Homo sapiens: one gene and its partners. The protein of the gene in region 3 purifies or fractionates together with the protein of the main gene of each other region. This does not show direct contact. Each region holds a gene or a part of one and is shown on either strand. Other genes may lie near its edges. The genes, in order: NPEPPS, XPO5, SLC35B4, IPO5, SLC25A12, WRNIP1 and LBR.

Region 1 (3,500 bases), on a different chromosome or scaffold from region 3:
GCTTGAACTCGGGAAGCGGAGGAGCGGAGGTTGCGGTGAGCTGAGATCACGCCATTGCACTCCAGCCGGGGTGACACAGCGAGACCCTGTCTTTAAAAAAAAAAAAAAAGTTGACTAATCTGAATGGAAATATTTCTAAAATACATTATCTTTTTATGCTTTGCAATTCCTCATAGTGTAGGTTTGTTTCATTGTTTTTTTTAAATACTGAACTTTATTTTGAACATCTCTCATTGACCCCAAACTATGTACTATAATTTATCAGTTTCATATCTGTTTTTTTTTTTCTTTTTTTTTTCTTTTTGAGACGGAGTTTCGCTCTGTTGCCCAGGCTGGAGTGCAGTGGCACAATCTCGGCTCACTGCAACCTCCGCCTCCCAGGTTCAGGCAGTTCTCCTGCTTCAGCCTCCCTAGTAGCTGGGATTACAGGCATGCACCACCACGCCTGGCTAATTTTGTATTTTTAGTAGAGACAGGGTTTCACCATGTTGGCCAGGCTGGTCTTGAACTCCTGACCTCAGGTGATCTGCCTGCCTCCGCCTGCCAAAGTGCTGGGATTACAAGTGTGAGCCACCGCGCCTAGCCATATCTGTTCTTTTTTTTTTTTTTTTTTTTTTTGAGACAGAGTCTCACTCTGTTGCCTAGGCCAGGCTGGAGTGTGCAGTGGTGCGATCTCGGCTCACTGCAACCTCCACTTCCCTAGTTCAAGGGATTCTTCTGCCTCAGCCTCCCTAGTAGCTAGGATTACAGGTGCATGCCACCACACCTGGCTAATTTTTGTATTTTTCTAGAGACCAGGTTTCGCCATGTTAGCTAGGCTGGTCTCAAACACCCGACCTCAGGTGATCCGCCTGCCTCTGCCTCCTAAAGTGCTGGGATTACAGGCATGAACCACCGCGCCTAGTCCATATCTGTTTTCTTTTTTTTTTTTTTTTTTTTGGAGACAGAGTCTTGCTCTGTCGCCAAGGCCGGAGTGCAGTGGCGTGATCTCAGCTCACTGCAACCTCCGCCTCCCGGGTTTAAGCGATTCTCCTGCCTCATCCTCCCAAGTAGCTGGGACTACAGGCACCTGCCATCATGCCAGGCTAATTTTTGAATTTTTAGTAGAGAAGGGGTTTCACCATATTGGCCAGGCTGGTCTCGAACTCCTGACCTTGTGATCCACCCGCCTCGGCCTCCCAAAGTGCTGGGATTACAGGCCTGAGCCACCGCACCCGGCCAGCCTGTATCTGTTCTTTAAAGTTGTTTTGTTTTCCTTACTCTCATGTTCTTCTTGCTGCTTATTGTGCCTTGTTGCTGCCTGTTGTGCAATTTCTTCCCTCTTGTATTTTACTGAACTTCATCTGAAGAAGCCTTAGTAGCCAGATAAACAAGCTTGTTTGGGCTAAAAAATCAATTGCTGTGTGAGAGTTTGTTGGATTCTCTTCTGAGTAAAGGGTATGCGTTTTATTGTACGGACTTTGTATCACCTATTTTGGCTTTTCATCTAGGCCTTTTTTTTTTTTTTTTCTTTTTTCTTTTTAGCCTCCTGGTTCTAGATACAACTGATACTCTGATACAACCTGGGTAAATGTGGTCTTGAGTAGTAAATTATCTGTGAAGCTTCTCCGAACTTTGCCACATAAATGAGCCTGCTCTTATTGTGAAGTAAATCTTACTCTAATCTGTATGTGAGTCAGTGGGAAATATCTGAGCCTTCGGATGGCTTTTGTTAACTGAGATTAGTTCTCTAGATTTTAGTGATTTCGTTTTGAACACCATACAAGTATGTGGTCCTTGGTTTATTTGGTCACTTGTAATCTCTTTAAAATTTTATTTTAAATTAGGAAATATTTTAGAAATACAAGAAAGTCACACACTATGAGATTAAACAGATGTTAACGTTTTGCCCCATTTTCATCAGACTGTGCATGCTTTTTTTGGGGGGGGAATAAAATGTCACAGATATCACTAAAGCCCATTTCCATCTCGTCCCACCCTGCCTCTAGAAGTAACTTCTTTCTTCAGGTAGGTGCGTATTATTCCTTTTTATTCCTATGTATAGTTTAAAACTTTAATTGCATATTAGTAGCCACAAACATCACATACCAATATTCTGTGCCTTTTGCATTTTTACATTAATGGTAATTATTTTTGACCTTCTGCAAGTGGCTCTTTTCAATGTTTCTTGTTAGAAAACTTGGCTCAACTTGAGTTTACTAATTATCTGCTTCTTCTTGTCTTTAGCTATTATAGAACTGTTCCACCAAGGCAACAATTATTGCTATTTTAATGGTGAAATCAGTTTTATTAGGCAAATTGACTCAGGCTTCAGACTGGCATTTGGAATTGTCACACTGGAGATTTTCTTTTACTGAAATCTCAGGACATTGACAATCAGAAAAAAACCCTCTTGAGTCTTACTATCTTACATGTAAGATATGTTCCTGAGTGACTGTAGTAAAGACTCATTCAGGAAAATGTTATCTCCGATTTCTGCCTCCCTATCTCATAGGAAACTTCCATTGTAAAGTTGTTACCAGGCGTCAAGCTGCCTCTTTGGTACAGCCCTTACTTAGTATTTGGCTCAGTTGAAGTGCAGTCTATATAGGAGGCCAAGAAGACTTAATCCTGGGTTTGAAACAAAGCAAGGATACACTAACATTCTATCCTTTAATAACATCAAGTAGAAAAATTGAAAATGAGCTTGTTATCAGTGCACTTTTATATGCCAACCTTGTTTCACTTGTGTTTTAAACTGGGAAACTGAAGATTTTAATGCTGAAATTTCTTTGAATTATTACCTGTTTTTTTGATAGTGGAACACACAGCTAATATTTACTAACATGAAGGTGTCAAAGGTGGGAAATCATGTACTACACCATCAGGTCAGCACTACTGTTTGGAAGAGCAGCATCACAATGAGCAGTGTTATACTGCGTTGTAGTCAGCACATACACTTATGTCCAAACAGATATTTTAAATTACCTTCTTGGGGTAGTACACATGTGCTGATATCCAAAGTGCCATATAATACAATACATAGTTTTTAAACTTCATATCATTCTGATCAGAAGCTTTATAAACTGTTAGGTGAATGCTGTTAGATGATATGAGAGCACAATTTAACCTGTGTGTGTGTATGTGTATGTCTTAACATCTATTAAGTGATGACTACATATGAAGCACTAAGTGCTAAAACAGAGACTTTACATAGATTATCCCATTATTGGTCAACTTTTTAAATAAGTGCATCTCTAATATAAGACAAGATGCTGACCAATTTTTAAAATGTGAATGGATTTCTATTTTTAAGATAAGTACCTTTGTTCCTTTGGTTCCTCCCTCCCACCCTTCCAGAAATGGTAGTATCCTGGAAAAAAAAAATTAGTAACAATTCAAGAAACAGCTTAATTCATTAGTATAAATAGATGAGTTTCCCTTAAACACAGGAGGAGTTGGAAGGTACTTGTAATTGGATGTTGTGCATGGTGCCTTTCCAAAATGCACAAATACTTTCT
Region 2 (3,500 bases), on a different chromosome or scaffold from region 3:
TCCTAACTTGATTGTCCTACCCTCAACACCTATCAGAAGAGGTAGCCTTTAAGACTTAGCCATAGTTTTTCCAGAATTGTTTTGTAAGCCAGCACAGAAAATGACTGATGTCAAAACTGCATTTTCTGAAAAGCAAGTACATTGTTGCAGTTGACCTAGATGTATATTCACTTTTGGCCCATCAATAAAATCATGAGGCAAAGCTGACGTGTGGTACAAATCTTGTGCGGATTCCAGTTAATGGACCACTGCATATATAAAACCTTTTCCCAAGAATTTTTGTGTTAGTATTTTGGTTAAATGTAGATCATTTTTGCCCATTCATTGACAGGTACAAAATCAAAAGTATAATTTCTTAATGAAATCTCCAGTGTAATCAAATGTAGAAATCCATGCTATTCTCTTGTAAAGACAAGACTTCTAAAGTGGTTCTATTGACTTTATGCATTTTGGTGGTCAGGTTTCGGTGGAACGGCATGTCTCGATTGGAGAAGGTGTATCTGAAGAACAGTGTCATGGAGCTGATTGCAAATGTAAGGAATGGGTGGTTGGGAGACATGTTTCCAAGGTAGTTTAGGCAAAGCGTGACTTCTTCAATAGGGAGTTTGTGTAAAAATTCACTGCTTCTAAATAGGTCAGACAGCACAAGAAATCATAATTTAGGCCAGGCACAGTGACTCACACCTGTAATTCTAGCGCTTTGGGAAGCCAAGGTAAGAGGATCACCTGCATCTAAGAATTCGAGAGCAGCTTGGGCAATGCAGTGAGACCCCATCTCTACCAAAAATGCAAAAATTAGCTGAGCGTGGTGGCGCATGCCTGTGGCCCAGCTACTCAGGAGGCTGAGGTGGGAGGATTTTCTGAGCCCAGGAGGTCCAGGCTGCAGTGAGCTGTGATGGTGCCATGGCACTCCAGCCTGTGCAACAGAGCAAGACCCTATCTCAAAAACAAAACAAAACAAAAGCAGAAAGCATAATTCAGCATATGTCTCTTACTAGGTTTAATTAATCATGCTTATGTATTGACTTCTATTTTTTAAATTATAAAGACAGGGCAGAGGGGATTAAATATTTTCAACAAATCAATAAGATTCTTAGATCTAAATTAGATTGAAACACTATTTTCTTTTATTCCAAACAACTACTATGTGATACTAATGATGAAAAACATGCAGAATTTTAAGTATGCAGAATGAATTTGTTTCAAGTATTAGAATATGACTTTTTTTTTTTTTTGAGACAGAGTCTCTGTTGCTCCGGCTGGATTGCATTAGCATGATCATAGCTCACTGCAGCCTCGAACTCCTGGGCTCAAGTGATCTTCTCGCCTTAGCCTCCCAAGTAGCTGGGATTATAGGCATGTGGTACCATGCCCAGCTAATTTTGTTTTTGGTTTTTAGAGAGACAGGGTCTCACTGTGTTTCCCAGGCTAGTCTGGTCTCAAACCCCTGGCCTCAAGCAATCCTCCCACCTTGGCTTTCCAAAATGCTGAGATTACAGGTGTGATGACTGGATGACTGTCTCTTTAAACACAAAACAGAATATGACTTTAAACATGTTCAAAATTGTAGCCTTTTTTCTTTCTTGGTTTTTTTTAAATAACAGACATGAGAGATGGGATCTTCTAATACTTCTGCGTCTTCTAGTGTTAGAACTATTGGTAAAATATTCATTTGCCCCTTCATACCCTTCCATTTTACCAGCTACTCACTATACTCCTTATTTCTATACTCTTCCTCCCTGGCCTTCTGCAAACTGAAACAATCAATATGAGAATCTTTTCATTTTGTAAAGAATAATGATGTCATCCTAGCTCTCGATATGACAGCCTTTTAGGTGATGCAACCCTCACTTAAGCTTTAAGCGGAAGAGTGATTAGCAAGAATGCAGGACAAGTGACTCAGGCTGAAGAACAGGTTCATTTGTTCTGTTTGGTTTAAAAGTAGGCCTGCTGATAAATTTTTTACAACTCTACAGCCCAGCTTTTTTCTGGAAGTCTGGAATCCAGTCTTGCATATCTCTTAATATCTCTTGTTCTTTTTCAGGGAACATTGAACATTTTGGAAGAGGAGAACCATATTAAAGATGCTCTGTCTCGAATTGTAGTGGAAATGATCAAGCGAGAGTGGCCACAGCATTGGCCTGACATGCTAATAGAATTGGACACTCTTTCCAAACAAGGGGTATGAAACACAGCTATATCAGTTTGGTATACTTTTCCTTGGAACAAACTTCAGGGTTTGTTGTTTGATTTTGTTTGTGGGTTTTTTTTTTTGGCAACAGAAAATAGCCTTTGGATATACATAAAATGAAAAGATATTTTAGTTTTTAACTAGCTTATTTCTATTGGTGTAGGAAACACAGACAGAATTGGTGATGTTTATCCTTTTGCGACTGGCAGAGGATGTAGTGACTTTTCAGACACTTCCCCCTCAAAGAAGAAGGGACATCCAGCAAACATTAACCCAGAACATGGAAAGGATCTTCAGTTTTCTGCTTAACACACTTCAAGAAAATGTAAACAAGTATCAGCAAGTGGTAAGGGATACCCCTACCTATAACATTTCTATTTTCCAATATGAGTGTTTTTGATTAATCTTACAGTAAGGAACTAGGGTGTCTAGGTCAGCAAAATGAAATCCTATTTTATAAGCAAAAAAATAAAAAACTAGGAAATGACAGAAAAACTGGAGCTCATTTTCTTTCTTTTTTTTTTTTTTTTTTTTTTGAGACGGAGGCTCGCTCTGTCACCTAGGCTGGAGTGCAGTGGTGTGATCCCGGCTCACTGCAACCTCTGCCTCCCAGGTTCAAGCGATTCTCCTGCCTCAACCTCCCAAGTAGCTGGGACTACAGGCGCCCGCCACCAGGCCCGGCTGATTTTTTGTATTTCTAGTAGAGACGGGGTTTCACTATGTTAGCCAGGAAGGTCTTGATCTCCTGACCTCATGATCCGCCCGCCTCCCAAAGTGCTGGGATTATAGGTGTGAGCCACGGCACCTGGCCTTTTTTAAAAAAAAAAAAAAAAAAAAAAAAAAAGATAGGGATCTCGGCTTACTGCAGCCTCCACCTCCTGGGATTACAGGCATGTGCCACCACACCTGGCTAATTTTTGTATTTTTAGTAGAGATGGAGTTTCGCTGTGTTAGCAAGGCTAGTCTCAAACTCCTGACCTCAGGTGGTCTACCCACCTTGCTCTCCCAAAGTGCTGAGATTATAGGTGTGAGCCACCGAGCCCAGCCCTAGGTGTTATTCTTAATTTTATTTTCAGAAGTTCTTTAGGAAAATACTAATTTTTTTTTTTTTTTTGGAGAGGGAGTCTCACTCTGTCACCCATGCTGGAGTGCAGTGGCACAATCTCGGCTCACTGCAACCTCCGCCTCCTGGGTTCAAGCGATTCTCCTGCCTCAGCCTCCCGGGTAGCTGAGATTACCGGTGCCTGCCACCATGCCCGTCTAATTTTTGTATTTTAGTAGAGATGGTGTTTCACCATGTTGGTCAGGC
Region 3 (3,500 bases):
CATCATGCTTCTTATAGTGTGGAATTCGCCTTGGGACAGGCCTGTGCTCTTTCCCAACCTTTGATTCTGGCTCATGACAAGGATACAAAAGAACATGTTATAAGAGAAATTGTATTCTCCTGATAGTGCCCCAAAATGTTACGGGTCTTTCTCAAGCATCTGTTGCCCTTAAGAACTTGTTCTGAGTGTGTCATCTTGCATCTATCTAAGCCTTTTGACTCTCTTTTCTGTGTGTATCTCTTTCCCATTGAGCAGGAATTTCCATAAGTTAACTTTCCAACAGAGTAAATTAGTAACTTCTTATCTCCTTTTATCTTGGGTAGAAGCCCCTCAAGTTCATAGTGTGCTCCTCATTCCAGGATTTGAATATCAAATTTATATTCACCTTACCCATGCCTTTATTATTATTTTTGGCCTCAGTTGTAAACCTCTTCAGCGTGATCTTTGCAGACTGAAGAGGTTCATTATTTTTTACCGTACCTCCGCTCGTACCTGCTTCCTCCCCAACCGCTCTCTAGCGTGGTCCTCTTGGCCCTTTTAGTCCCTTTCTCTGCCCATTAGCTAGTTCTGCTGGCCTTTTATGAGGTACTGTGACCAGGACAATACTATGTATTTGAGTAGAAAACCTGGGATGGTTCATCTTCTTAATTTCTTTTAATCCTTGCCTGAGGCCTTTTGCTTGATCACCAAAAATCTGAGAGGGTGCTAATGATACTAGCTAATGTGAAATGCTACTGTTATTACAGCCCATAGTTCTATAATCTGAATATCCTCCCCCTTATCCAACTATGCCAACATTTTAAAACAATGTTAAGTCATTCAGAGATTTAAAAAAAACAAGCCTCCCCCAGAGAATGGATGATTGGATTATTTTCTGAGCATTGAATCCTGCTGCTTGCACCTGATAGCCTGTTTTTCCACTCGCACAGTGTGTCTTAGGACACAGATTTGGTCCCCCTAAAGACAGGAAAAGCAACAGATCCTAGTAAGGACTGGGTCAGCCTTTCATCTGGACTCTTGAGAGCAGAATGCAACATCACATCTGGTCTATTTCTGTTTTTGTCTCCTGATGAAATAATCGATTGGTCAGCAAATTGTTGGAGACAGACTAAACAGTACTAAGGAAAAGTGTTGGTTAGAAACTAGTCAGTATCCTGATTCATTCATATGCATACTTCTGTGGACTCTGCTGGAAAGTAATCCTGTCTGTCATACTTTAGTGATTTGTACTTTCATGCACCATCTGACTGTAAATATCACTGGGAAATTCATATCTGTGCTTTCCTAAGGTGTTTTTCTTCTTTTTTTTCTTTTTTGCAGATACAGTATATTCAAATATACCTCCATTGCCCTGGTGTCTGTGGGGATATTTATTTGCACTTTTATGTCAGCAAAGCAGGTGGTAAGAAGCTCACAAATTATTTTATGTTCACTACTTGCTATTGGGGCCCAGTTACCAGGCAATTAATACAATTCAAATTTTTATGTAATACAAAGATTTTGAAAGAGAAGAGGGGAGGGAAATGGGTAACATAAATGTTTCCCTTGTATGTCGGCACCTTGCACGTAGTTCTGCTCTCTGTACCTAGTTTATTTTCTTATTTCCTAGACTTCCCAGTCCAGCTTGAGTGAGAATGATGGATTCCAGGCATTTGTGTGGTGGTTACTAGGCAAGTACAATAATTATAATAAAGCTAATTGCCTCTGCAGTTGTGTTTGCTGAGTTTTCTCCTAAGAGAAATGTTTCTTGGCAAGAAGCTTCAGCTAAACAAATTATGCCATGGAAGAGAGGCACCTGGGATCATATTTCTCTGAGCCTTAGCGTTCAAGAAATGAAAAAAAGAAAATGCCCCCACATTCATGGCAGTATGTTCTACAACATGGATCCATGTTTTTCTTGGTTGCCACTGGTGTAGAAAGAAAAGTGTGTGTCTACTTGCACATCACATCCTTTGAATGTCATCCGTCTCTTCACGATCTGTCTGCCAAGTTGAAGCTTCTGCAAGAGGGCACGTTAGAGCAATTGACTCTTTAAATTTCCGAGGGACTCATTTCTAAAGACTTATTTTCTTCAGAGGTTAGCTGTTCCATATGGCAGTGTTCCCAAACCTGACTGATTATCAGAATCTCCTGGGGAATTTTTAAAAATACAAGGATCTCTGTGGAATTAAATAGGCAGCTCCTGTAGAGCTTTGTTCTCACATTTTTTGATATGGAGCTGAGACTCGTTCCAAGGGCTTTCAATGACAACAATAACGGATTGAGACTGACCAATTGGAAGAGAAATAGCAGTGAAAGAACTGTGTTCTCCTTGCTTCTTGGCTTTGAGACTTTATCCCTTGTTGCTGTTTGTAACATAGAAAGATCCTTATGTGCTATTAGAAAAATACTCCAGAAGAAAAATTTGCAAAGGATATGAACATATAGTTCATGGGGGAAATAGTAGCACCCAACAATTTTAGGTTCAGCCTCACTAGTCTAGTAATCAGAGAAATGCAAATGAAACCCATGCAATACCTTTTTATGTTGGCCTATCATACTGGCAAGATGATAAATGGTTATCTCATTGCTGCTGAGGGTACAGTAAAACAACTATTTTTATATAATAAAAATAGTTTGGGTATAAATGGACACAGCATTTATGGAAAAATATTGTGTATTGTATTTTTTAAATGTCCACAGCCTTTGACTCAGTAATTCCACTTATGAGGGTTTATCCTAAAATATATCAACATTTGTTTAAAGATTTGTATACAAGGATGTACATTGATTTTAATAATGAAATAATTGGAAATAACCATCCTCATACATTTAAGTGTGCTACATCCATATCATAGTCATTAAAAGCATTCTATTTAAAAAATTTTAATGACTGATTTGAAGCAAAATTCCAGGCAAAAGCTCATGAAAAAAGCAAGATATAAAATTCCATATGCAATCTGATCCTGTCTTAGTGTAAAAAAATTTACATAAATGAATATATAAGAAGATGTAGAAAGCTGTAAAGGACTAGATGGTAATAATGTATTTTTATTTCTTTTTACAGTTTTGTACATGTTCTACAATTAGTTCATAATATTTGCAGGACTTTAAACAATAATGTTCTTCAAGAAAAACATCTGGAAATGAACAAATGCAGACATCTTGTCACCTGATGTTTGTTTTTTAGGTATTGGGGCATTGACTTTTGCTCTTCTGATGTCAGCAAGGATGGGGATATTCCAAGAGACTCTCTACAAACGATTTGGGAAACACTCCAAGGAGGCTTTGTTTTATAATGTAAGCAACTTCCTGAACCTGGGAACGTGAAAATTCCTAAGTTGTAAAATGTTACTTCAAGTGAACTATTAATATTCTCTGATGTAGTTGAAGGTGTATTATTGGTAGATGGCTTTGAGACCCACAGACTGAAGCAGTTTTGATGGGATGCTCTGGTGGGTTCCAAGTCACAGTTCACTACATGAGATGATCACGATCAATCAAAGCAAATTAAATTGTGT
Region 4 (2,561 bases), on a different chromosome or scaffold from region 3:
GAAAATCATGAAGTTCAAGCCTGACTGTGTAAACGTTGAAGAGGTCCTTCCACACTGGTTGTCTTGGCTTCCACTACATGAAGATAAAGAAGAAGCTGTTCAGACTTTCAATTATCTGTGTGACCTGATTGAAAGGTAGGAAAGCAGACTGTGACCTTATTTCCTTCTCCTCCACAGTGCTTCCTGGTTTTTCTTGCCTAACATCAGTCTTTTAAGGTTTAACCACATGATCTCTGCACAGTCCTCAGTTGTATAGGTTTATAATAGTGCTGTCTTTATAAATCATATTAAGAAACCATATCACAGTTAACATTGCCCTTATAATAAGGTCTAATTTTGAGTTATTCTTTATGAAATTAGATTCAACAGATGAGGCACTTTAATTATTTATTTCTTTGTTTTTAAATTTTTTTGGTAGCGACAAGGTCTTAACTGTTTTGCACAGGCAGGTCGCAAACTCTTGGCCTCAAGAGATCCTCCCACCTCAGCCTCCCAAAGTGCTGGGATTACAGGCATGAGCCACCAAACCCAGCCTAAGGGAATGTTGTTTAGTGTCTGTTTTCTAAGTCCAAGTTCCCCCCAAATATCAGTCAGATCTAAGCTCTGTCGCTATTATTATTTTTAGGTTATGAATAAATTCAAGGGCTACAACCACTGCCACTATTGTAGCAATAGGCCAACAGGTATATTCTCCATACTTGTTTAAGTTCAGGTTCACATAAGAAATGGGTTTGAGTCTTCCACTGACCATATCATTAAGGAATGTAACAGCCATCCTGCAGACTACATACTCCTGACCTGCTCCTACATCTGAAATGACCAGGTCTTAATCATGCTATTTGATCATCTTCCTTGGAAACGACTACTCTGAAATTCTCTTAGTGACAAAGACTAGAATTCTTAAATTCGCTATCAGGTTTTTTCCCATTAAACTTGCCTGAGTTTATTTCCCAGTTTATTCTTGAAATGTTTATATAATTTTTTTGAACTTCAGAGTTATTTTAGAAGCTATTTTGTAGTAGCAAAATAAAACTTGTGTTAAACTTATTTTTAATAATACAAAACATTTTTTTTAACACATCACAAATTATTTATAAGGTATTTAGAGCATTCTGTTGTTTGGCCCTTAAAACAATCCTGAGAGATGAGCCCAGTATTTTTTTTTTCTAATTTATGTAGAAAGAAACTAAAGAGTTCATATATAAGATTGGCTGGTTTTCTTCCTACTGAATTTAAAAGGCCATTGATTTTAGTGAACACATAATCATATTTCTCCTTATAAATTTCACTTACTAAGGTTTTCTTCTCATTTGTCAGTAATCATCCAATTGTTCTTGGCCCAAACAATACCAATCTGCCCAAAATATTTAGTATAATTGCGGAAGGAGAAATGCACGAGGCAATTAAACATGAAGATCCTTGTGCCAAACGTCTGGCCAATGTCGTTCGCCAAGTACAGGTAAGCTGATTTGGTTGAATTGGGGAGGGGGAGATAAAACCTTTTTTTCTTTGTAGTCCTCTATGAGAAGAAACTAGAAATCTAATGAGCTAAGGAATTTTATTTTTATATTTTCATAGTCTCTTGTCTCCAAGCCTCAAATGGATTATACTTAATGTAATCCATCCGTATGTACTTATTATTTATTAGAATTAAAACCTTCATCTTAGGACATTTTGAGCTTACCAGTTGGTGCTTAACACAAGCTTATGTGTAGTTTTTCTGCCTATCTTAAGAAAAAAAAACAAGATTTAATAATAACTTGTCATCTGCCAAAAAACTTTATATGATTTTTACTTCCTATATTCATGTGGTATATGGGTTACTTTAAGATGTTACCTGCTTAGTGTAGCTTTTTCAGTGCAAAAATGAAGAAAACTTACTGGAAATGAAATGAACTTTAAAAAAATGAACAGATTTCTTGCTTTTACAATGATACTCATCAAAATAATGTACCTAGGGAGAAGGTATTTTGCCATGATTACAGTTTACCTATGATGATGATTAAAATCCTTCCAAATGAGCATTTCGTCCTAAGTCTGTGAAAATGTTTCTTTCCCTAGACTTCTGGAGGACTGTGGACTGAGTGCATAGCACAGCTCAGTCCTGAGCAGCAGGCCGCCATTCAGGAGCTCCTGAACTCTGCGTGAAGGGCCTTAATGTCACCCACCAGAAAACTAACTCCAAATAAACGCTTACCCTTTCCTTTAGGTTTCTTTGTTTTGTTTTTGAGCAAAAGAGATCGGTAGTGTTGTGTGTAGGCCATTCTTCTGGAGAGCCACAAGCAGGAAGAGCAGCGCTGTGTTGCAGAATGGAGTTTCCATGGATTTCTACCAGACCACTGAAGGAGTTCCTGGAAGCCCTGCGGTAGCTAGCACTGAAGACTATTTTTCTATTGGTATAACCCGCCCACCTGAAGGGGAAAGGGAAATCAAATTAATTTTTCTCGTTAGACATAAGGAAATTTAAGGAAAAACAGCTTTAAGAACAGTTACTCAGCGTAGATGTGTGTTCACACAAATTGCTCTGCATTCAGTGTTCATTGTGAATTGGGAGTGTGAGT
Region 5 (3,500 bases), on a different chromosome or scaffold from region 3:
TTTTTGTATTTTTAGTAAAGACAGGGTTTCACCATGTTGGCCAGCACAGCTGGTCAGAGCCACACTGAGCTCTGTAATGGTTCATTACTGGTTGTATAGAGAGCAAACATGCACCCCTTCCTTCCTTTGTCTTTTCGGAGTGTTGGTGCAGCCAAGGACACCTGGTTCTCTCCTCCTTTTCCAAATCAGCTCCTTCCTAACTCAAGAGTCAGGCTGAGGCCGAGCTTGGTGGCTCATTCCTGTAATCCCAGCACTTTGGGAGGCCAAGGCGGGCAGATCACGAGGTCAGGAGATCGAGACCATCCTGGCTAACACGGTGAAACCCCGTCTCTACTAAAAATACAAAAAATTAGCCGGGCGTGGTGGCGGGCTTCTGTAGTCCCAGCTACTGGGGAGGCTGAGGCAGGAGAATGGCATGAACCTGGGAGGCGGAGCTTGCAGTGAGCCGAGATTGTGCCACTGCACTCCAGCCTGGGCGACAGAGTGAGACTGTCTCAAAAAAAAAAGAGAGTCAGGCTGTAAATGTGAGGTCTCAAACTCCTGACCTCAGGTGATCCTCCCATCTTGGCCTTCCAAAGTGCTGGGATTACAAGCGTGAACCACCACACTTGGCCCAGTCTCCTACTTTTAAATGGGGGCAGCATTTGCCTTCCAGGCTTTTCCTTGTGCTTTCCAATCAACAATGAAAAACAGCCAGAGAAGAAGAGTCTAATTGTGGACAGGTGTTTGCAAGTGGTTGAACCAAGTAAATATTTCCATGGAACTGTCAGCACCGACTTCTTCCCCATAGACATTTGATGTCAGTTTTCAGAATGAGATTATTTTTTCTAATTTTTACCAGTCAAGCTTTGCTAGCAGGAACTGAGAACATTCAGAAGTCTGCCTCCAAAGGCAGGAAGTTTACCTAGTTTCATCTGAATAGGGTGCAAGGCCATGCCAAGGGGAAGTATTTGCATTATTCCCTAGCAGAACCTCGTACAAGGCTGCCAACTCCATCCGCCTAGTGAGGATACAGTGATATTCAGGCCAAATTGAATTTCTTCCCCCGGGGAAGATTATTTTGCTCCTTTGCTCTCTGTTTTGTTTTATAAGTAAAAGGTGTGGTTGTGAAATCCATCTTTTGTGTCCTGCTGCTGATCAATCTCAACATGACCCCAGGGAGCTCGGGCACAGGGGCCTTTCCCTGACCAGCTCCCCTGTTGTTTCTTAACTGGCTGCCTGGCCACCTCTTGCTCCAGTTGTAATGACTTTTGTCATGTAAGCATGTCTGAAAGGAGTCACAGTCAACTCTCAAGGTAGCCCTTCAAACAAGCGAGTGATTATAAGTATTGATATTCACTTCCCACACTACGACAAGAATCAGCAAAAACAGTAGTTTGGTGTCAGATACATTTAGTGACTCACTAAGATGACATTATCATTTTTTTATACATAAAAATACTTGTATCTTATTTAAGAAAAAAAGGAGGTAAAATAATTGAAACTGAAAGGGAACGCTTGGGAATTGTCTTATTAATATTGCTACTTTTTTTTTCTCTCTCACAGTTATTTGGGATCATGCAATGTAGAGTGATTTTTTTTTTAATTCAGGAAAAAATAATAATAATTTTCCCCTGATCACACTGCAACAGCTAATAGGCTTCTATGCCCTTTTCCCATTAATGGCCAGACATCTATGTAAAGAGTTTTGAGTTCCGCTCAAGTGGTTGAAGTTGCAGGCTCTATAGTAGATGTTAGCAGTATTCCTATCTTTTATAAGGTACTCTAGATAAATTAAATGTGGTTTTCTCCTGAAAGGTGTCCCAGCTGCATCTCTGGTGACCCCTGCTGATGTCATCAAGACAAGACTGCAGGTGGCTGCCCGCGCTGGCCAGACGACATACAGTGGTGTCATCGACTGTTTCAGGAAGATTCTCCGGGAAGAAGGGCCCTCAGCATTTTGGAAAGGGACTGCAGGTAGGCAGGGGCTGGAGCCATACAGAATGGCTGGCTGGCTCTAGCGTCCTCCCCTGTGACTCAGTGGCTATCTTTACCACATTTGTCCTGGTTTCAAGTCTCCCCTGCCCCTGCTTCTCTTTTTCAGCTCGAGTGTTTCGATCCTCTCCCCAGTTTGGTGTTACCTTGGTCACTTATGAACTTCTCCAGCGGTGGTTTTACATTGATTTTGGAGGCCTGTAAGTCAGCTGCTCAACTCCTTTACAAAGAAATCACTAAGTCCAAAACAAATGTTTGTTCTGTCTACAAAAGCATTGTTGCAACTCTTAGAAAACTGATAAGACAGAACCTTTAAGACCAATGCATTTAAAACAGTGAGCTTAAGAAGCATTTGTGTTAAGCAAGTAAAACTTGACAGAGTGACATCGTACATAATATTAAGCAGCTATTTGGGGGATTTTAGGGAAGCAGCAAATTTTTTTAAAAAAGACAGGATATCCTCTGTTGCCCAGGCTGGAGTGCAGTGGCATGTTCTTGGCTCACCGTAGCCTCAACCTCCCGGGCTCAAGCGATCCTCCCACCTCAGCCTCCTGAGTAGCTGGGACCACAGAGGCATGCCACCACACCCAGCTAATTTTTGTACTTTTTTATAGAGATGGGATCTCACTGTGTTGCCCAGGCTGGTCTCGAACTCCACCAGCCTTGGCCTCCCAAAGTGCTGGGATTACAGACATGAGCTACCGTGCCTAGCCAGGAGGCAGCAGATTAAAATGCTGTGTAAATAATTGTCTTTTTTCACATAAGCAAATACTGAACTTCATGGCGTTCTCATTATGTGGATTTTATTATATGGCCCTTTCACAGAAGTAATGTAAATGTATACCAGTAACACTTTTGTGCATTTTCTTTCAAAGTCCCAAGCCCTTTTGCATCTCTGATATTTCATTATTCACCACAATTTATTATTAGTTAGGTGCAGATGTTCTTGAAGCTAATTTACTGGAAAAACCAATAGGTTTGAAGAGAGATTTTGCCCATGGATATAATCACTAGTGAGCTGTAGGCCAGAAATTGGGCTTCTAAAAGCTTACCACTTGAAGCTTGCACTGAGAAGAAGAATTACAAGTTGAATTTTCTGGGTGGGGAAGTTGTACCCAAAGCAAGCAATTATTAGCTTTTCAGCAGAAGACCAAGTACCATTCCTGAGTCCTCACATCAGAAACCTGTGAACTCCTCTGTGCCCAAAGGCCATATAGGGAATCAGCTGCTGAACCAAGTGGAGGGACCTATGCAAAAAAAGTGAGAACAGCAGTCTTACAGTTGCATTGTAGAAATGTGAGGCTTCAGGCTTTTCCATGCTTCTTTCATCTTCTGTAAAAGAACTAAAGCTATTTCTCTCTCTCTCTTTTTTTTTTTTTTTTTTTTTTAGACGGAGTCTTGCTCTGTCGCCCAGGCTGGAGTGCAGTGGTACGATCTCGGCTCACTGCAACCTCCACCTCCCAGGTTCAAGTGATTCTCCTGCCTCAGCCTCCTGAGAAGCTGGGACTAAGGGCGCCCACCACCGC
Region 6 (2,530 bases), on a different chromosome or scaffold from region 3:
CCTAGAGCTGTGTATCAGAAGGGGCTCTGCAGAACAGAAGCTTGGCATCTTGCTAGTAAAATGTGTCCTCTGTGTCATTGGTAGGTGCTTCTGGCCCAGTGTGTGGTCTACTTTGCCAGAGCCCCAAAGTCCATTGAGGTGTACAGCGCCTACAACAACGTCAAAGCCTGCCTGAGGAACCACCAGGGGCCACTGCCCCCCGTGCCCCTGCACCTGAGGAACGCGCCCACTAGGCTGATGAAGGATTTGGGCTATGGCAAAGGCTACAAGTACAACCCCATGTACAGCGAGCCTGTGGATCAGGAGTACCTGCCTGAAGAGTTGAGGGGGGTAGATTTCTTCAAGCAGAGGAGGTGCTGACTCCTCAGGGCACGACAGCAGAAGGATGTTGCTTTTTTAAGGGAGGGCCAGAAAGAAAGTTAGTGGATTGCAAAGTTGGTTGCCTGGTGGAAGTTAGAACAGACCAACATTTTGTGCCAGAAATTTAAGAGTTCCATAGGTGGAGGCGCAGTTCTTTCGAATAAATGTGTAACTTTGAAATTGTGTTCATTTGCACTCGGTGCAGCGGTTATGCTTATGAAAATACCTGGCAGCTTTGTGCAATGAATTAATGTTATAAGGAATTATCTATTTTGTCATAGTATTTAAGTCATAATGTCATTTCAGAATTCAGTTCTGTAGGATTTTCTTTTCTTTAAAAAATGTATATTCTGGGTAGTTTTAATTGGTAAAAAAATGTAATTGTGATTTAATACTGCATAGTGTTTTGGGTATTTTTTTTATATGCAAAGGTCTTACGAGCCAATAAAACTATTTCAAAGTACTCTTCGATTCTGTCATGGTTTTCCTGCCTGGATGCTAGGTACCAGCGTTGTCACCATTGCATTTGGTGGGTGGATACTGGGAAGGAGAAATCACCCCAGATGGGAAGAGTGGGGAGCTTAAGTTAAGAAGTCAGTGTTATCTTGTTGAAAGTTAACTCTGATCTCTTTAAAGGAATACATAAAGGAATTCTTTAAATGGCTTGTGGAAGACTCCAGTAGTCCCATGCCCATTTTTTCCCACTTGTCCTGGTTTCTTCTTGCAGCTCCATATTTCTAAACAGTCGTTTTTCTTTTACTTTATGTGTGTCCTGAACACAAAATACGCCACTCCTTCTGCTCAGTTAAGAGTTATTTGTCCCTACTGCTACTTCCTCTCCCTCTCCTTAGTTGCATGTCGTGCATATGCCCACAAGGATGGCCCCTTCAGGTAGTCGGTTCTCCTCCTGCTGTTGCGTGATCCCTCCTGGGGTCCTCCTGCCATGTCTGGAAGGCTGCCGGCTGTTGGCCTGGGACGTCCTCTGCCTTTATTCTGAGTGAGATGCCCATTTTCTGGATGCTCCATCCCGCCTTACTGGTTTATTCCGCTATTTCAGTGCAACCCATCCTCTAGTAGTTTTATCAGGCTGGAGGGACTGTATGTTGCAGAGGCTTGGCCCGACTGGCCTCCCTCCTTCTGTCTGGAGTGGTTGCACTGCAGTGTGCAGTTGCCATCCCCAGAATCTCCCTTCATCATCACCCTGGAGCTTTCCTCTGCTTCTCCCTGCACCCCATCTGATGACAGGACTGACTGCTTTCTGGCACAGGTGGCATGTACCCTCTAGTAGCTTTATGGAGCAGGGGTGTGTGGAGGAAAAGTATTTTTAGACCTCAGGAGACTCAAAATGCTTTTATTGTACCTTCAGACGTGTCTGAGGGTTTGGCTAGTAATAAATTGTAGGTAAGAAATTACTTGTGCATTGTTTTACACTTTCCCACATTGTTGTCAAGTTTGAAGGCATCCTGATGTGTGTGGTCTTTTGTTTGTAACCTCTATCAACTTGTAGACTCTTCTGTCTTTGCTCCCCGTGTTTTAAAAGTCTGCACTGGGTACTTGTTGGGCCTTTCAATCTGGAAACTCCTTTCAGTTCTAGGGAAGTTTCTTTTTTTATTCAATAAATTTATTTATTTATGAGACCAACTCTTGCTCTTTTTCCCAGGCTGGAGGGCAATGATGCGATCTCGGCTCACTGCAACCTCCACCTCCCAGGTTCAAGCGATTCTCCTGCCTCAGCCTCCCAAGTAGTTGGGATTACAGGCGCACACCACCACACAAGGCTAATTTTTGTATTTTTAGTAGAGACGGGGGTTTCACCATGTTGGTCAGGCTGGTCTCGAACTCCTGACCTCGGGTGATCCACCCACCTCAGCCTCCCAAAGTGCTGGGATGACAGGCGTGAGCCACCGCGCCCGGCCTCAATAAATATTGAGTGCCTGTTTTATGCTGAGCATTCTTGTTGATGTTAAAACACATCAGTGAGCAGAAGAGACCAAAAATTCTGTGTTCTTAAAGCCTATGGTATGAAAAATAATATGTTAATATGCCAAATAGTGATAAGTGCTATGCTAAGGAGAAAATGAATGAAAGATTGAATATGGAAAGGGGAGGTATGGGTGCAGTTTTAGTAGAGTAGCCAAGGTGGATCTCACCAAGAAAGTGTTTGAGTCAA
Region 7 (3,500 bases), on a different chromosome or scaffold from region 3:
GGAGACAGCTCATATCTGTCCTACTGGCTGCCCCTTGGACGTGGCCCCAGCTAGTTCATGTGGTACTGGGGAAGGTCGGCAGCCCTGGTTTTGTTGTGTGGAAATGTGATTCCGCTGGTCAGCCGATGGAGCGGCATTACTGTCTGGCAGCTGGAAGTACCCAGCTATCAATTGATATTTCAAAAAGGGTGGCAGACAGGCCTCACGTAAGTGGCAGTTCTTGCAGATTGCTTGTGGATTCCTAGAGTATTGTGGGGCTTGTGGGCCATGTTTTGAATCAGAGGAAAAGAATGTTATAATTGGGGGTTGATGGCTGCTGTAGGCTTGAGAGAAGTGAGCTTGGATGAAGGCAACCACCCTGGCTTAGGTGGGTGGTTGGCAGAGTTACTTGGTATGCATTTGTACTTTAGCTGTAAGAGTTGAAAGCTAAATAACCCCCAAATTTATTCATTACAGACTTGGAATTATTTTTCTTCCTATTGTTGGGTTATAGTCATGTTAATTGTACATCCTTGATTTTCCCAGTCTGGTTTATAGTTTGCTGTTTTTAATAAAGGCAATTTGTTAAAAATACAATTAAATGCATTTTTAAAGCCATTGTAAATTGATACGCAAATTTACAAATGAGAAAATGTGTTCTTTGTGAGATTGTGCCTCATTTTTTGATTAGCGAGAACTGTGATCACGGTAGGTGGGTAACATTTTACATAGTGTGAACTTATGGCGCCTATATACATTGTTATAATTAATCTTTAGTGTCACATAGATAACGCAGTGGCTAAATCATCCTCTCAAATGATTCCAAATGAGATTGAATGTAGCCTTTCTGGCCCTAAAATCCTGACCAGTCAATTCTGGAAAGTTGTATTTTAGTGATCAGCCTGTGGAAAAAGACGAATACATAAATGTGTATGTATTGACTCAAATTTTTTTCTTTAAAACTATTCAGGTTAATTATAGAAAATGCCAAGTAGGAAATTTGCCGATGGTGAAGTGGTAAGAGGTCGATGGCCTGGGAGTTCACTTTATTATGAAGTAGAAATTCTGAGCCACGACAGCACCTCCCAGCTTTACACTGTGAAGTATAAAGATGGAACAGAGCTTGAATTGAAAGAGAATGATATTAAGGTAAGAGCTCCTTTGGTTTATCAGAGTGTGTTTACAGTAAGTGGGAAATAACTCTAAGTATGGTTTCTAAGCTCAGGATAGTCAGTTCAGCTCGGTTTGAAGGCAGAGGATTGAGCTCTTGCTTTGGGTCACATACTGTTTTTGGCTCTGGGAATGTATGAATGAGGCATAGTCCTTGTTCCCAAGAAGCTCACACTTACTGGGAAAGACAGCCATTTGCATCTGTTGGTCCCCTGGGTTTACTACGTTCTGTGTCTGGAGTTTGCTGTGGGTGGTGTTGAGTGTATCAAGGGTAGAGAAGAGCCCTGGGCTTCAGGGGAGGCTTTCAGAGGCAGTGACACCTAGCCAAGTGCTGAGAACAAACAGGAAAAACAGCAGTTGATGGGGCTGTTTCTGCAGAGAGGGCAGTATGCCAAAGTCAGGGGTCTGGGGGACACAGTCAGCCAAGTGCTGGAAGGGGGTGGTAGGGGAGGGCTAAGCAGGAGCCAGGCTGGGGGGGCTTTTATATTCCATGCCCAAGGGTTTGGGCTTCATCCTGAACACCAAGGATTTAATCAGGAGAGTGACATTAATTAGATTCGAGTCTAGCCCAGGGCTTTTCAACCTGTCTGGTGAGGGCCTGGGTTTTAAGATATCTGATCCGTAGTATACAAACATTTATATAAAATGCCATAAAAATGAGTTACTAGAAAAATAAAGACATACACAATAGACGACTCACAGTTTTACTATCAGATTCGATAGATATGAGATTACTTTGTCAAAATGCTATAAACATTTCCATACACCTATTTCTCAATTTTGGTACTTGCACAGATTAGTAACGAGCATTTCTAGGACCCATGGCTGAGGATGACACTTCGAGTGCTCTAGACCAGGAATAAAGCACAGAAAGTAAATATTTTAGACTTTATGGGAGCGGCTCCAGGCAGTATGGAAGGGAGCAGACATGGCAGTGTTCCAGTACAACTTTATGGACAGTGAAATTTGAATTTTGGATAATTTTCACACTTCAGGAAATACTGTTCTTTTGATTTTGTTTGTAATCATTTAAGAATGTAAAAGCCATTCTTAGTAGGAAGGCCACACAAAAATTGGGGTGAGGGACTTGGCCTGGGGCGTAATTTGTCTACATCCCTAGAAGCAACATAAGGAGATTCGGAGTAGGTGGGGACACAGTGAAACAGTTCCCAGTCATCCAAGCTCATGTTTTATTTTCAAGATCTGCTTATGTGTTTTGTTCAGAGTGAAACTGTGGTACTGTTTTTTTTTTTTTGGTCTGTGTGCTTATTTATTTTGTCCTGTCGTCTCAGTTTTAATCCATGTTAATTATTACCCTTCTTGCATATGGTGTTGGAAATAAGTACAGCTAATTGGTTTAGATACATTCGTTTCATGGAAATACCTTCAAAGAACAGGAATGGAAAGGCTGCATTTGTCTCATGAAAGATGGATCATTATGAAAGCATTTTCCATTGGCTTCATCTGATCCATTCTCAGATCCTAACATTTCCCGTGCTGATTTTAGAGTTAATGGTAGCAGTTCCTGCCTTTGTTATCCTCTTCTAGTGTGGGTCTGTCTGTATGTGTTATGATTTGTGGTAAAGCTCTTTGCCTTCTTCCCCCTTTCTAGCCTTTAACTTCCTTTAGGCAAAGGAAAGGTGGCTCAACTTCCAGTTCCCCTTCCAGACGCCGAGGGAGTCGATCAAGGTCACGCTCCCGATCCCCTGGTCGACCACCTAAAAGTGCCCGCCGATCTGCTTCTGCTTCCCACCAGGCCGACATTAAGGAAGCAAGGAGGGAAGTGGAAGTTAAATTGACTCCGCTGATTCTGGTACTTGTGTTTATCCTTATACAGCCTTTTGTCTTCCGCTTTATGTATATATTTACTCAAGTTACTTGCAGTTAATAATATTAAAATGTCACTGAAACATCAAATCTAAGTTGATGACTTTGGGAGTTTTCATATAAAACAAATGTTTGGAATAGAAAGTTTTAAATATCAATGGAAAAGAATGTCCTTCAGTTACCAGAAATGCTATTTAATATTTTAGTTTTTAAAAAAGCAGCGTTCAAATTTGAAATAGATGTAGCTTGTAGATTGAACTGCGTAAGGTTTTTACAGTGTATAAAAGTTCATATCATGTATGAAATGGTAAGACAAACCTGTATTACGGAAACATTCTTACTCTTAGCATCATTATACTTTATCACTTTACCTATTCAAAGATGATTTTAGTGGAATTACTTTCAAGATGTAAGCTTTGAAATATCAGGGTGCATGGAGCCTGTAGATCTTGTACAAATAGTATTTTAGATAGTAGACCAAAGACAAAGTATGTTAAGTAAAAAGAATAAAAGTAATCTTCTAT

The links.
Region 1: the proteins of SLC35B4 (region 3) and NPEPPS purify together in Homo sapiens (affinity purification with mass spectrometry; one large-scale study listed by BioGRID and IntAct). This does not show direct contact.
Region 2: the proteins of SLC35B4 (region 3) and XPO5 purify together in Homo sapiens (affinity purification with mass spectrometry; one large-scale study listed by BioGRID and IntAct). This does not show direct contact.
Region 4: the proteins of SLC35B4 (region 3) and IPO5 purify together in Homo sapiens (affinity purification with mass spectrometry; one large-scale study listed by BioGRID and IntAct). This does not show direct contact.
Region 5: the proteins of SLC35B4 (region 3) and SLC25A12 purify together in Homo sapiens (affinity purification with mass spectrometry; one large-scale study listed by BioGRID and IntAct). This does not show direct contact.
Region 6: the proteins of SLC35B4 (region 3) and WRNIP1 purify together in Homo sapiens (affinity purification with mass spectrometry; one large-scale study listed by BioGRID and IntAct). This does not show direct contact.
Region 7: the proteins of SLC35B4 (region 3) and LBR purify together in Homo sapiens (affinity purification with mass spectrometry; one large-scale study listed by BioGRID and IntAct). This does not show direct contact.

Annotation. Positions count from the first base shown.
Region 1 is NC_000017.11:47,537,608-47,541,107, forward strand, and holds part of NPEPPS (puromycin-sensitive aminopeptidase), read left to right. Parts: intron 1-3,500. UniProt on the Homo sapiens protein: Aminopeptidase with broad substrate specificity for several peptides. Involved in proteolytic events essential for cell growth and viability. May act as regulator of neuropeptide activity.
Region 2 is NC_000006.12:43,569,539-43,573,038, reverse strand, and holds part of XPO5 (exportin-5), read left to right. Parts: intron 1-460; coding exon 461-533; intron 534-2,044; coding exon 2,045-2,182; intron 2,183-2,354; coding exon 2,355-2,537; intron 2,538-3,500. UniProt on the Homo sapiens protein: Mediates the nuclear export of proteins bearing a double-stranded RNA binding domain (dsRBD) and double-stranded RNAs (cargos). XPO5 in the nucleus binds cooperatively to the RNA and to the GTPase Ran in its active GTP-bound form.
Region 3 is NC_000007.14:134,299,931-134,303,430, reverse strand, and holds part of SLC35B4 (nucleotide sugar transporter SLC35B4), read left to right. Parts: intron 1-1,320; coding exon 1,321-1,402; intron 1,403-1,609; coding exon 1,610-1,670; intron 1,671-3,169; coding exon 3,170-3,279; intron 3,280-3,500. UniProt on the Homo sapiens protein: Antiporter that transports nucleotide sugars across the endoplasmic reticulum (ER) membrane in exchange for another nucleotide sugar.
Region 4 is NC_000013.11:98,019,675-98,022,235, forward strand, and holds part of IPO5 (importin-5), read left to right. Parts: coding exon 1-135; intron 136-1,317; coding exon 1,318-1,459; intron 1,460-2,061; coding exon 2,062-2,148; 3' UTR 2,149-2,561. UniProt on the Homo sapiens protein: Functions in nuclear protein import as nuclear transport receptor. Serves as receptor for nuclear localization signals (NLS) in cargo substrates.
Region 5 is NC_000002.12:171,786,245-171,789,744, reverse strand, and holds part of SLC25A12 (electrogenic aspartate/glutamate antiporter SLC25A12, mitochondrial), read left to right. Parts: intron 1-1,797; coding exon 1,798-1,956; intron 1,957-2,083; coding exon 2,084-2,174; intron 2,175-3,500. UniProt on the Homo sapiens protein: Mitochondrial electrogenic aspartate/glutamate antiporter that favors efflux of aspartate and entry of glutamate and proton within the mitochondria as part of the malate-aspartate shuttle.
Region 6 is NC_000006.12:2,784,923-2,787,452, forward strand, and holds the end of WRNIP1 (ATPase WRNIP1), read left to right. Parts: intron 1-84; coding exon 85-360; 3' UTR 361-2,030; downstream 2,031-2,530. UniProt on the Homo sapiens protein: Functions as a modulator of initiation or reinitiation events during DNA polymerase delta-mediated DNA synthesis. In the presence of ATP, stimulation of DNA polymerase delta-mediated DNA synthesis is decreased.
Region 7 is NC_000001.11:225,421,539-225,425,038, reverse strand, and holds part of LBR (delta(14)-sterol reductase LBR), read left to right. Parts: intron 1-949; 5' UTR 950-963; coding exon 964-1,128; intron 1,129-2,761; coding exon 2,762-2,962; intron 2,963-3,500. UniProt on the Homo sapiens protein: Catalyzes the reduction of the C14-unsaturated bond of lanosterol, as part of the metabolic pathway leading to cholesterol biosynthesis.